Homo sapiens: one gene and its partners. The protein of the gene in region 2 purifies or fractionates together with the protein of the main gene of each other region. This does not show direct contact. Each region holds a gene or a part of one and is shown on either strand. Other genes may lie near its edges.

Region 1 (2,775 bases), on a different chromosome or scaffold from region 2:
GCTCCCCACGCAGAGCCCCCACCTGCCGGATCCCCTCCCCTATGGGCTGGGGGCTCACAGCAGGCGTGTCTGGAGGCAAAGCTGCACCCACATGGTCAGGCAATGGACACTTGCCGGGTGGACCCACAGGTCCTGCTCCAAGTTCTGCAAAAACGGCTCTAGTCCTCACTGTGCTGTGACCGACTAGCATCAGCCCTTTGGGGTCCCCTGTTGCCACTTGTGAAGGACACGAAATCCCAGGGCCCTTCCTTAGGGTCGGTGCCCTGTGGACTACGCCTAGTGTCCACACACTTGGGCCAGGCACGCCTGGAACCATCAGGACTCCAGAAGCGGGAAAGGAGGCAGCAGCTGGGGGCCTTGCTCTACCCCAGAATCAGCCCAGGTCTCTGACCACACGTGGCTCAGCAGGTCCCCTCCGGCTGAGCCACCAGGCCCTGTACAGACCCCACCCCACTCGGGACCCTGGCCACAAAGGCACACACCTCCTAACAGACACCCACTTGGTTTTGGGCTGTTTATTTTCCCATCAGAGCAGTTTCCCGGCCCGCGAGACAGAGGGGACACAAACGCAGCAAGGGCGGCCGCAGAAGGGCACCGCTGGCACGGGGTGGCCCCAATGACCGAGTCCAGGAAAGCTCGATCCGCACGGAAGGCAGCACCCGTGCTCCCCGCTGGAGGCGGTATGTGTCCCTGAAATCCACGGTCAGGCTTGTGCGGAAGAAATCGAGGCCCGGAAGTCCAGGAGGGGCGCCCCACGGCCGGGAGCGGGAAGGGTCCGGAGGCAGGAGGGCGGCGCCTACGTGTCGGGGTCCAGCCAGCGGCACTGCTCCTCCAGCACCCCGCGGAACACCTGGAAGCGGTGGTTGAGGTCGGGCCGTGCGTGGATGCGGAAGCGGGTGCCCAGGGCGCCGTCGGGCGAGGGCGCACCGTAGAAGACGCGCAGGATGCGTGCGTGCACCAGGGCCATGGCGCACATGGCGCAGGGCTCGCGGGTCACGTACAGGTCGTAGCCAGTGCACAGGTAGGGGAGGCCGTCCTCGTCTGCGTCCAGTTTACGCACGGCGCCTGCGCGGACGGCCTGGGGGGCAGCGGCCGGGGCGAAGGAGCAGGCGGGGAAGGGTCTGAAGTCGTAGGTGCCGCGGCCCTGGCCGCGCGCCACGAGGTCCACGCACACCATGACGGCGTGCAGGAGGGGGTTGTCCGCGCAGCTGCAGTCGTGGCCGGTGGCCAGCACGCGGTCCGAGGCCGGGTCCACTACCACGGCCCCCACGGCCCGCAAGCCCCGCGCTGCTGCCCGCCGGGCCGCCCACACCGCCCGCTCCATGTGGCTCTGCATGGCGGCGCGCTCCTGCGTGGAGAAGAGCCGCCCAGCCAGGGCGCTGGTCACCTGCTTGTCCTCGTGGAAGGACGTGGGCCAGTGGGCCCGGGCCTCCTCGAACTGGCCCCTGGTCAGAGGCGGCCGGGCGGGCACGGGCACCAGGAAGGGTTGCCCCAGGCCGCGGGGGTCCACAGCCGGCCGTGGCAGGAGCTCAGCCAGCGAGCGCGGGCCCGAGGCCGGCCCAGCCAGGCAAAGCAGCATCTCCAGGGCGTGGGGGCTGCCGGCATCGCGGCTGGGCCGCACCCGCTTGAGGTGAGGCTGGGCGGGGAGCGGGTGCAGGGCCGACACCTCCTTCAGGAGGCGTGAGGTCTGGCGCTTGTCCAGGACGGGCGCGGCGTAGGCCAGCACCAGCTCCACGTCCCCTGACTGCTTCTCGGACAGGACAGGGAGGGCCTGCCACGGCGCCGGCTCAGGCTCCGGGCTCCCGGCCTCCAAGCACTTGGGCTGCTCCACGAGGCCCGGGGCGGGCTCCATCCTCAGCGAGGCCGACTGTGGGAGACAGAGACGGGAGCAGAGGATCATCCGGCGGCTGCGGGCGGCTGGGGGAGAGCCGGGGAGTCCGTCCCGGGAGGCCGTGGCTCCACAAGGCAGGGCGTGCTGCCACCAAAGCTGAGGCTAGTCCGAGGGCTCCGGCCCAGGTCACCGCATCAGAGCTACACTCCCTCATGTCCTGCTAACCCCTGGTGTGCACAGAGTTTAAACAGCCATTGGTTTTTAAAAACGAAGATATAATTCACCTACCAGAAGACAGATCATTTTCTTTTTTTTTTATTTTATTTTTTTACTTCTGAGACGGAGTCTCGCTGTCGCCCAGGCTGGAGTACAGTGGCATGATCTCAGCTCACTGCAACCTCCGCCTCCCGGGTTCAAGCTATTCTCATGCCTCAGCCTCCAGAGTAACTGGGATTACAGGCATGCGCCACCACGCCCGACTAATTTTTGTGTATTTTTAGTAGAGATGGGATTTCACCACGTCGTTCAGGCTGGTCTCGAACTCCTAACCTCACGTGATCCACCCGCTTCAACCTGGTGGTGGGATTACAGGTGTGAGTCACTGCGCCCAGCCAAGACAGGTCATTTTCAAAAGCACAATTCATGGCTAGGTACCAGCGGCTCACGCCTGTAATCCCAGCACTATGGGAGGCCGAGGTGGGGGGATCACTTGAGCCCAGGAGTTTAAGACCAGCCTAGGCAACATAACAACACCCCATTTCTACTAAATATCAAAAAATTAGCTGGGCGTGGTGGCACACACCGGTGGTTTCAGCTACTCGAGAAGCTGAAACAGGAGGAGCACTTGAGGCCGGAAATTCAAGGCTGCAGTGAGCTACAATCGTGCCACTGTACCCCAGCCTGGCTGACAGAGCAAGATGCCATCTCAAAAAAAAAATGAAAAC
Region 2 (4,300 bases):
GGGTTCAAAGAGCTTCCTGGTTGCTGAACGTGTGGAGGTGCTGGGAACAGCAGGGCACTCCTGAAGTGAGCTTGTGGCAGGCCTCCATAACAACTGTTTCAGTACTGACTGCGTGGTTAAGTTAAATGTTAAAAGCCAGTGCCCTTATACAAAGGCTGGAATGTAACAAAAGCCCACCAGGAGTTTTGCCTAGGCCTTTCCTGGGCCTTAAAGCATGACAAAATTACGAAGGAATTCTTAATGGGACCCATTTAGGATTAAACAAGTTTTACTGTGGATCTGAAGAAACGCCACAGGTCTCCACAAACAAGTTTATTGGGATCTGAAGGAATTCCTCAAAACTCCTTGATTTAGCAAGAGACAAAATAAGGGTAATCACCCCAGCACCTGGACCCATTTAGATTAAGTAAATTTACTGAGGCTCCAGTGGAAGGTCTTCAGGACTCAGACCTTAGTTATAAATTAAAAGAAGTTAATCACGTCTTTAGATGAATGCACATTTACACATAGACATATAGCTTAGAAGGTATATAAGTTCTGAAAAACTTTGTAATTTTGAGTTGGTCCAGCGATAATTTCCTGGCCTTCTCCCTGTAACCGGTTACAGAAATAAAAACTCTCTTCCTCCCCAGTTCATCTGCATCTCGTTATTGGGCCAGGAGCAATAGCAGCCCAGCCCTCAGTTTGGTCCAGGAACAGGCCTGGAAGCTCCGCGCCCTGACACCCTGCCCTATGTGTCTCCTCCGTTTAGCTGTTCCTGAGTTGTGTCCTTTATATAAAAAACCAGTAATAGTAAGTAAAGTCCTTTCCTGAGTTCTGGGAGCCATTCTAGCAAATTAGTAGATCTAAAAAGGGAGTTGTGGGAACCCCCGAATTCATAGCGGGCCAGTCAGAAGTCAGACCTATGATTGGTACCTGAAGTCGGGGGGAAGTCTTGGGGGACTCAGCCCTTAACCTGTGAAGTCTGCCCTAACTATGGATAGTGTCTGAACTGAATTGAATTGTTGAACACCCAGCCAGTGTTGGGAATTGGTGTCAGAAAAAACGTGGCAGTGGTAGGGAGCTTGTGGGGTAGTGGGGGTCCTTCTCTTTGGGGTTGAGAGATACCACTAGTGCCTCAATTCAGTTTCATCCTGAAATTCAAAGGCCTTCATGACCCTGCTGGGAATCTGACCACCGTTTTCCCACTTATTTCTGGGTTACAAATTCACACCCAAACAAACTTCTGGAACATGACCATTTATCCTATGGCAATTAAAGGACTTAAGGACTATAGACATCCTGCATGCCCCACCACGCATCCCTGGGCTCACCTGGATTTTGAGCCTGAATTTTCTGATGCCAGAGAAAGCTTTAAGTGTATTCAGAGCTTGGGTTTTGACACTGTTGTCCTTGTCATCCAGCATGTAGCCCAGCAACACGATGTCATCCGTAGTACAAGCAGAGGCCTGGAGTATTGGGGAGAGATGGAAGAGGCAGGAGAAGCGGGTGTTCTGGGCCCACTGCCCCCCATGTCACCAAGATCCCTCCGCACACCCCCCCCCCACCGCTATCAGCCAGAGAGAGGTCCCAGGATATAGTCTGGCCATTCCAGGGGCAGGGATCGGCCGTAACCCCCAGGGGCCAGGCCGGCTAGGGGGGACCTCCTGCTTCCCTTACCTCAGCCTCCAGCAAGTACACACAGCGAGTGATACTGTGCAGGATCATGCTCTTGGCATACTCATCCTGTTTGCACTCCAAAGAGTTGAGGAGCCTCCGGAGCTCACCTGAGTCCCGCCCGTGCCGCTCTCGCTCGACTGCCAGGCCTAGACAGCCACCCCAGCCCAGTTCAGGCTGTGGACTCAGAAGTGATGAAAGAATGGGGTTGGGAAGTAGGGGACAGGGACTTGGGGACAAGGCTGCCTTGCCTTTTCGGAGAAGCCTTCTCGCCATATGCAGGACCACCATGTACAGTTGAACGAATGTTTACTGCACAAGGGCACCCTATCTAATGTTGTATTGTCCATAACGTACCATCATAGATTTGTCCATTTACTCTAACAACTGTCTGGCATATGGCGGTAACAAGTAGTATTTCATCATAACCAGTATGTGGCAATGATATTCCAGCAGATGGCAATAAAGAGTCTTGCAGAAGGGGCTCATTTTCCTACTCTGCACAAAAGAACATGTGGACTAGTGGAAGCTCTGGGCATATAGTAAGTCCTCCAATCTTCCCTTTCCTTAAAGCCTCACGTTCCTAGGGCAGAAAAGGGATGGGGGGAGCTGCCGACACCAAGTTTCCAAGAAGTGGAATCCTGGGAGCCAGAGGAAATGTAGTATTTGGAGACCTGCCAGATGAGTCTGAGGATCCACTTGAGTGAGATCCAGGGACCCTGAGCTAGCATCTCTGGCAGGGCCTTGCCTAGGACGCTGCAGGGTGGGCTTGAGGAAGATGGACAAGAGAAAGACAAAGGAAAGAGGAACTTGGAGGCATCACCTTTGGGCCCTCCCACAGCAGAGGCCTCGGGAGCAGGTGCCTCCTGGGGCAGAGCCCTCTCCCCAGGGCCCGGACACTCACGGGCGATGCAGATGGGTGAGTTGCTACAGAGGGGTGGTTTGCATTTTATGCCAGCCTTGATGGCCTTGTAGAGCAGGTAGATCGCCCCGGCGCCTGTGGCCAGGCTGACTACGCTTTTGCGGATGTCCAGTTGCCCCAGGTATTGGGGGATGCTCTTGCCCATGTCTTCAGTGTTGCCCTGGGCCCAGGTGAGAGCTAGGCCCAAGGCACCTGTGGGGGGCCTTCCGGAACCAGAACTCTGGCAGGGTCAGGAACCAGGGTACCAGAATTGGAACCTAGGCAACAAAGGAAACTGGGGAGATAATGGGATGGAGGGCAGTGGTCAGGAAATGGGGCAGCCAGGAGTGCTCGAGAACAGATGGGGCCAGGCACCATGGCCCACACTTGTAATCCCAGCACTTTGGGAGGCCAAGGCAGGCAGATCACTTGAGGTCAGCAGTTCGAGACCAGCCTGGCCAATATGGTGAAACCTTGTCTCTATTAAAAATACAAAAAAATTAGCCAGGCATTGTGGCGCACACATGTAATCCCAGCTACTCAGGGGACTGAGGCAGGAGAATCGCTTAAGCCTGGGAGGTTGAGGTTGCAGTGAGCTGACACGCCACTGTACTCCAACCTAAGCGACAGAGCAAGACTCCATTTCAAAAAAAAAAAGAGAAGGTTCTGCTTTAGAGACCACAGGAGATGAAGCATAAGACAGAAGGGGAATAAAAGGGGAGAGGGCAGAAGTGTCCTTCACATCTCCTCTTCTTTAAGGGGGGACCCCAGCAGGTAGCTCCAGAGGCTGCCTTTCCACCATTAGAGGGCAGCAGAGGTCCATTTCCGGGCTGGGGCCTTAGGGCATTTCTGGGTGAGGTGTTTGGGGTATGCCCATTGACAACCCTGTTCCTTTTCTTTCCGGGCCCTCCCATATGTGATCTCTCCACCCTAGATCTACCCCTGGGCCTTGGGGTGTTTCTTCAGGTAGGGTTCCCTCCCCGCATCAGAGGATGAAAAGGAGGGGAGTATCTTAGAAAGCATGCACAGACTCTTGAGGCAAATCCACCCTTTTCCAGCATCTGCATGTTGCCCTGAAGTTTACCTGTTTGACAAAGTGCTCTTGAGGACAGCTACCTTTGCATCTCCAGCATAGAATCTTGTACTTAGCAGGTGGTTTAAGTCATGTTCTGCCATTCTTTAAGGACTTGGCGGCAGAACAATGACAGCATCTAGTAACTGGGGCTCCAGACCCTTCTAACCAGAGTGACCTTGGAGGAGAAAGGGATCGCCTTTGCCTTAGTCTGTTTCTGCATTTGTAACCTAAAGGGATTCGGATTTACCATTCTAAAACTCCAGGATTAAAATGTGGGTAAGTCTGTGCCTTTCAGCTAAATTTGGAAGTATCACCTCTCAGCCTCCCCAGGGATATGAGGCGGCTTGTGAGGTCCTCTGGAGTCAGAAGATGCCACCACCCCAGAGGATGTGAGCCCACCTGTGGAGGTCTTGATCCCCACCACTAGGATGGGGCAGGTGAGACCAGACCCTTCCCTCTTCCCCACCAGGGTCTCCCCGCAACTTCTGTCCCCACTCTCTGTTGCAGAACAGGCAAGTGGCCAGCTCCAAACTAGGGCCACGCCCACAGCCAGTGCTGAGCATGCTGCACCAGAACAGGTGTTCACCTACCTGGCCCTGATCCCTTTTTGGGAGAACTGGGACAGAAGGCTCTGGGTCCTGGGCTGCACCCAGGATGGAAGGAGGTAG
Region 3 (3,500 bases), on a different chromosome or scaffold from region 2:
ACTCACTATGGCCAGATCCCCTTCTTCCAGTTGTCCTGGACCCTCTCTGTGTGGACTGTCCATGACCAGAGTGGCCATGTCCAGTGGCCTCTCCTGTCTGTCCATAAGTAGTTTCATGTCTCTCATGAACTGTGGATTCTGACTCTCCATGTTGAGATCCAGCTTGGCTGTGAGTTTGTTCTTGTGAGTGTGGTCTATGTGAGACCCCTGAGTGCACTTCACTGTCAGTGGCATCACTGTGGCTAAATCTCTGTCTTCCAGATGTTCTGGAACCTGTCTGTGTAGACTGTCCATGACCAGAATGGCCATGTCTAGTGGTATCTCCTCTCTGTCCATGAGTAGTTCCTTGTCTTCTGCGAACTGTGGATCCTGACTTTGGGTAGTGAGATCCAGCTTGTGTGTGAATGTGTTCTGAATGTCTGTGTGAGACCTTTGAGTGCACTTCACTGTCACTGTTCTCACTTTGGCTAGATCTTCGTCTTCTAGTTACCCTGGACCCTGTCTGTGTGGATTGTCCTTGACCAGACTGGCTATGTCTAGTGGTATTTATTGTCTGACCATGAGTAGTTTCCTGTCTCCCATGAACTGTGGATCCTGACTCTACTTGTTGAGATTCACCCTGGCCCAAGCCAGTTGATTGACCTGAGCCTGAACCATATTGGCCAAATCCAGTGGACTGACCTGAGTCAGATATATGTTGTCCAGAACTAGAGAAATTGTCTGAGCCAGACACATGCTGTCCAAAACTTGTGGTTGGACCTGAGCCAGACTCATGTTGGCCACAGCCAGATGATTGACTGGAGCCAGTACCATGTTGGCCATAGCTAGACTGACCTGATCTGTACTCATGCTGTGCAAAGCCAGAGGATTTACCTGTGCCTGACCCATGTTGTCCAAAGCCAGAAGACTGACCTGAGCCCGATCCATATTGGCCAAAGCCAGAGGACTGACCTGAGCCTGGCCTGTGTTGTCCAAATCCAGATGTCTGTCCTGAATTTGACCCATGTTGACCATAGCCAGATGATTGACTTGAGCCAGAACCATGTTGGCCATAGCTAGACTGACGTGATCTAGACTCATATTGTCCAAAACCAGAGGATTGTCCTGAACCAGTCCCATGTTGTCCAAAGCCAGAGGACTGATCTGAGCCTGATCCATGTTGTCCAAAGCCTGAGTATTGGCCTGAGCTTGACCTGTGTTGTCCAAAGCCAGTTGTCTGTCCTGAACTAGACCCATGTTGACCATAGCCAGATGACTGACTTGAGCCAGAACCATGTTGGCCATAATTAGACTGACTTGATCTAGACTCATGCTGTCCAAAGCCAGAGGATTTTCCTGAGCCTGACTCATGTTGTCCAAAGCCAGAGGACTGACCTGAGCCTGATCCATGTTGGCCAAAGCCAGAGGATTGACCTGAGCCTGACCTGTGTTGTCCAAATCCAAAAGTCTGTCCTGAACTTGACCCATGTTGACCATAGCCAGATGACTGACTTGAGCCAGAACCATGTTGGCCATAGCTAGACTGATGTGATCTAGACTCATGTTGTCCAAAACCAGAGTATTGTCCTGAGCCAGTCCCATGTTGTCCAAAGCCACTGGACTGACCTGAGCCTGATCCATGTTGTCCAAAGCCAGAGTATTGACCTGAGCTTGACCTGTGTTGTCCAAAGCCAGATGTCTGTCCCGAACTTGACCCATGTTGACCATAGCCAGATGATTGACTTGAGCCAGAACCATGTTGGCCATAGCTGGACTGATGTGATCTAGACTCATGCTGTCCAAAGCCAGAGGATTGTCCTGAGCCAGACCCATGTTGTCCAAAGCCAGCGGACTGACCTGAGCCTGATCCATATTGGCCAAAGCCAGTGGATTGACTTGAGCCTGACCCATGTTGTCCAAAGCCAGATGTCTGTCTAGACCCATGTTGGCCATAGCCAGATGACTGACTTGAGCCAGAACTGTGTTGGCCATAGCTAGACTGACCTGATCTAGACTCATGTTGTCCAAAGCCAGAGGATTGTCCTGAGCCAGACCCATGTTGTCCAAAGCCAGAGGACTGACCTGAGCCTGATCCATGTTGGCCAAAGCTGGAAGACTGACCTGAGCTTAACTCGTGTTGTCCAAATCCAGATGTCTGTCCTGAACTTGACCCATGTTGACCATAGCCAGATGATTGACTTGAGCCAAAACCATGTTGGCCATAGCTAGAATGACCTGATCTAGACTCATGTTGTCCAAAACCAGAGGATTGTCCTGAGCCAGAAACATGTTGTCCAAAGCCAGAGGACTGACCTGAGCCTGATCCATATTGGCCAAAGCCAGTGGATTGACTTGAGCCTGACCCATGTTGTCCAAAGCCAGATGTCTGTCTAGACCCATGTTGGCCATAGCCAGATGACTGACTTGAGCCAGAACTGTGTTGGCCATAACTAGACTGACCTGATCTAGACTCATGTTGTCCAAAGCCAGAGGATTGTCCTGAGCCAGACCCATGTTGTCCAAAGCCAGAGGACTGACCTGAGCCCGATCCATATTGGCCAAAGCCAGTGGATTGACCTGAGCCCAACCCATGTTGTCCAAAGCCAGATGTCTCTCTAGACCCATATTGGCCATAGCCAGATGATTGACTTGAGCCAGAACCATGTTGGCCATAGCTAGACTGACGTGATCTAGACTCATGTTGTCCAAAACCAGAGGATTGTCCTGAGACAGACCCATGCTGTCCAAAACCAGAGGATTGTCCTGAGACAGACCCATGCTGTCCAAAGCCAGAGGACTGACCTGAGCCTGACCCACATTGTCCAAAGCCAGAGGACTGACCTGAGCCAGACCCATGTTGTCCAAAGCCAGATGTCTTACCTGAGCTAGACCCATGCTGGTCATAGCCCAAGGATTGACTTGATGTAGACTCATGCTGGCCACAAGTTTGACCTGAGCCACATACATGTTGTTCGAACCCAGAGGACTGACTCAAGCCTGTTCCATGTTGTTCAAAGCTAGTAGACTGACTTGAACCAGACCCATATTGATCACATTTGGAAAATTCATTTGAACTAGAAGAGTTTGAAAAGCGGCCACAGGAACCATATTCATGTTGACCATTACTACAAGACTGGCTACCTCCAGACCCATATTGTCCACAGCAAGAGGACTGACTTGAGCCTGTTCTCCATTGTCCTCCACAGTTCTGTGGTTGACCATTTTCTCTAGCTCCATATCCTCTCTGACTATAGGACTGACTACAGGGGTTAGACTCAGGTTGACCACATCCAGAGGGCTGACCTCCTGAGACACAGCCATGGCCTTGTCCTCCCTTAATTCCTGACTGACAGCCTGACTGAATATAGCTAAATTGATTTCCTTGCCCTCCAAATCTATGTGACTGACAAGAACTTGAAGCATTTTGTGGCCTTCCACACCCACTTGAATTGCTATAACCACATGCATGACTTCGCCTCCCACTGTCTCCTGAACCTGAACAGCTAGACCCAAGCTTTTGT
Region 4 (3,500 bases), on a different chromosome or scaffold from region 2:
GTTTCACTGTGTTAGCCAGGATGGTCTCAATCTGCTGACCTCATGATCCGCCCGTCTTGGCCTCCCAAAGTGCTGGGATTACAGGCGTGAGCCACTGTGCCCTGCCAATTTTTGTATTTTTAGTAGAGACAGGGTTTCTCCACATTGGTCAGGCTGGTCTCGAACTCTCGACCTCAGGTGATCCACCTGCCTTGGCCTCCCAAAGTGATGGGATTACAGGTGTGAGCCACCGCACCTGGTTGCTTTTTAAAAATTTTATTGGGAGGTTTTTTGTTGTTGTTTTGTTTTTTTGAGACGGAGTCTTGCTCTGTCACCCAGGCTAGTGGCATGATCGTGGCTCACTGCAACCTCTGCCTCCTGGGTTCAAGTGATTCTCCTTCCTCAGCCTCCTAAGTAGCTGGGATTACAGGCACATGCCACCACGCCTAGCTAATTTTTGTATTTTTAGTAGAGACGGGGTTTCACCATGTTGGTCAGGCTGGTCTCTCCTGACCTCGTGATCTGCCTGCCTTGGCTTCCTAAAGTGCTGGGATTACAGGTGCAAGCCACCGCACCCAGCCTGGTTTTTTTTGTTGTTGTTTTTTTTAATAGGTAATATAATCACTTGGTTCAAAATTCAAAAGGTTAAACAGAGAGATACAGTGAAATCTCCTTCTTACTTCTACCCCCAAGTCACCCAGTTTCCTAGTCCTCGGCATCCTGTGTTAACAGTTTCTTGTATGTTCTTCCAAAGGTGTTTTTTGCATATGGAAGTTAAAAACATTTATCCTTCCTGCCCCCACCCTTGGTAGCATTAAGACACATTATTTCCCACATGTTTTTTTCCAATGAGTGTAATTTGGGTTATTCCGTATCAGTACATAAAGAGCATTCTTATTCTTTTATACAGCTGCATAACCGTTACATGATATCTCAGTCTGTTTGTGCTGCTCCAACAAAATACCTGAGACTGGGTAATTTATAAGGAACAGAAATCTATTTCTTACCATTCTGGAAGCTAGGAAGTCTAAGATCACAGTGCCAGCAGGTTTGGCGTCTCTGCTTCCAAGATGGCACCTTAAATGCTACTTCCTTTGGAGGGAACAAATGCTGTGCCCTAACATAGTAGAAGGAGCAAAAGGGTCAAGCACCTCCCTTGCACCTCTTTTATAAGGTCATTAATCCTATTAATACCATTACTAGTGATTAAGTATCAACATACAAATTTTGGGAGAACACATTAAGACCATAGCATATGGATAGATCATGATATGGGATATATTTTGATTTGTTTAACATGTCTGCCTCTGATAGACATTAATTTCCAGTGTTTTGCTATTACCAACTTTGACATGGTGAGTCACTTGGGATATTGATCTCTTCACATTTGTTAGTGTATCTAACAAATACACTAACTGTTAGTTTTTGAACTCTTTGAAGCAGGAGACTACCACTTAAAAGTTGTAGTATTGACATTGTCATTATATCAATAATGTATTGATGTTATAGTATCATAACATTGATGTTAAGTATTGGTAATATTGCTGTTAAGTCATTAGTTTAGAACTTCAACAATCAAGTTCATTCACTTAACAAATACACGTTTTGTACTTGCTGTGTGCTGGCCACTGGGGAAACTGAATTAAATGCTGTGGCAGTTGAAATAGAGGCATGGTGATTAAGAGTTTTCGGATCTAGAGTCAGACTTGGATTCATATCTCAGTTCTAAAGCTTAACTGAACCTTTGGCAAATAACAGAACTTCTATTTTTCCTTCTCTGTAATGTGGGAATCATAAGGTTATTGGAGAAGTAAATGAGATAGTACATGACAAATCCTTAGCATGATGCCTGGCATATAATAAACACTGAGATGTTAGCTTAAAAAAAGTTATCAGACTATATTGCAGTTGACTTTATGTTCTGCCTCCACTGTGCTTAAAGTCTAGGCCTGTGTTTTGTTCACCTTTGTGTCCCCAACCCATAACTGGCTTGCATTTAGTAAAAAATTTGTGATACGATATAAAGGTATGCAGAGCATACAGTGAAAGTTCAAAGCAGGATACCTTTTCCATGCTGGAGAAGGTGAATCTTTGAAAGTCGGTAGGAGTGATTAGGTAAAGGAGGTGAAGGAGTAAAGATAATTATTCTAGACTGAGAAATTATGTTAGTATCAGGTTATGAGGTTAGAAGAGGTAAGTAGGCAACTGGTATTGCTGTGCTGAGAATTTAAAAATCTTTATTGAAGGCTTTAAAAGAAAAGTGGTAATCGTAAGAATCGTGATGATAATTCTCTCTGTTGAGAGTTGACAGGGCACCAGGTTGGAGCCATTAAATTGAAGGAGTTTAATGTAGCAGTTTAGGACTAAAAATTGGTCAGAAGCAGGGCAATGGGAAAGGACATGAGGGGGATGGTTGTAAGGTGTTAGGGAAGATGTGGGTGGTGAGTAATGAGTCCAGAATATTTGAGCTTTCTGACTTGAGTGAATGGGTAGATGAATAGATGCTATTTCTTGAAATAGGTAATTTGAAACATGAAATTGAGAGGCCTGGGGGACATCCAAGTGGACATGTCTTGTAGGGTCTCAATACTAGGAAGACATCTAGGATAGAAAATAAACATTTTCTGATAATTGTAAATGTATTCATTTGTGCTTTGAATTTTTATGTTTAGTAAGTGAGTTTGTGAACAGAGTTGAAGGAAATTACAATAAAGTGATTTGTGTGAAACTTCGTTGTCCTTCAAATATAGACTGAGGTCTCCAGTTTCTGGGGTAGTACTAAAATGTTTCCTTTTTTTTTTTTTTTGAGATGGAGTCTTGCTCTGTCACCCAGGCTATAGTGCAGTGGCGCGATCTCAGCTCATTGCCAGCTCCGCCTCCCACGTTAACGCCATTCTTCTGCCTCAGCCTCCCGAGTAGCTGGGACTACAGGCGCCCGCCACCACACCTGGCTAATTTTTTGTGTTTTTAGTAGAGCCTGGGTTTCACCGTGTTAGCCAGGATGGTCTCAATCTCCTGACCTCATGATCCGCCCGCCTTGGCCTCCCAAAGTGCTGGGATTACAGGCGTGAGCCACCGCGCCCAGCCAGATGTTTACTTATTTAAAATTTCAGCTGGTACGTTTCACAGCAGCAGTTGCTTCAGACTCAGGGTTATGCTAGTGTTTCTTTGCAGGAGTGACATTTTGTATCCTTATATATTGTTATTGTCCATTCAGATTGTAATGAGTTAATGAGTTTTTTTTTTTTTGAGACAGAGGCTCGCTCTGTCGCCCAGGCTGGAGTGCAGTGGTGAGACAGAGGCTCACTGCAACCTCCACCTCCCTGGTTCAAGCAATTCCTCTGCCTCAGCCTCCCGAGTAGCTGGGATTACAGGCACATGCCACCACGCCTGGCTAATTTTTTTGTATTTTTAGTAGAGACGGGGTTTCACCATGTTGGCCAGACTGGTATCGAACTCCTGACCTGAGGCAATCTGCCCACCTTGGCCTCCCAAAGTGCTGGGATTACAGGCATGAGCCA

The links. Proteins that work in one complex are often made in the same cells at the same time.
Region 1: the proteins of ARMC12 (region 2) and ADAT3 purify together in Homo sapiens (affinity purification with mass spectrometry; one large-scale study listed by BioGRID and IntAct). This does not show direct contact.
Region 3: the proteins of ARMC12 (region 2) and FLG2 purify together in Homo sapiens (affinity purification with mass spectrometry, with the first as the bait; one large-scale study listed by BioGRID). This does not show direct contact.
Region 4: the proteins of ARMC12 (region 2) and SEPTIN7 purify together in Homo sapiens (affinity purification with mass spectrometry, with the first as the bait; one large-scale study listed by BioGRID). This does not show direct contact.

Annotation. Positions count from the first base shown.
Region 1 is NC_000019.10:1,911,173-1,913,947, reverse strand, and holds the end of ADAT3 (probable inactive tRNA-specific adenosine deaminase-like protein 3), read right to left. Parts: intron 2,059-2,775; 5' UTR 1,901-2,058; coding exon 797-1,900; 3' UTR 501-796; downstream 1-500.
Region 2 is NC_000006.12:35,735,532-35,739,831, reverse strand, and holds the start of ARMC12 (armadillo repeat-containing protein 12), read right to left. Parts: upstream 2,801-4,300; 5' UTR 2,724-2,800; coding exon 2,561-2,723; coding exon of another isoform or gene 2,480-2,560; intron 1,834-2,479; coding exon of another isoform or gene 1,806-1,833; coding exon 1,660-1,805; intron 1,449-1,659; coding exon 1,314-1,448; intron 1-1,313. UniProt on the Homo sapiens protein: Essential for male fertility and sperm mitochondrial sheath formation. Required for proper mitochondrial elongation and coiling along the flagellum during the formation of the mitochondrial sheath.
Region 3 is NC_000001.11:152,353,507-152,357,006, forward strand, and holds part of FLG2 (filaggrin-2), read right to left. Parts: coding exon 1-3,500. UniProt on the Homo sapiens protein: Essential for normal cell-cell adhesion in the cornified cell layers. Important for proper integrity and mechanical strength of the stratum corneum of the epidermis.
Region 4 is NC_000007.14:35,807,557-35,811,056, forward strand, and holds part of SEPTIN7 (septin-7), read left to right. Parts: intron 1-3,500.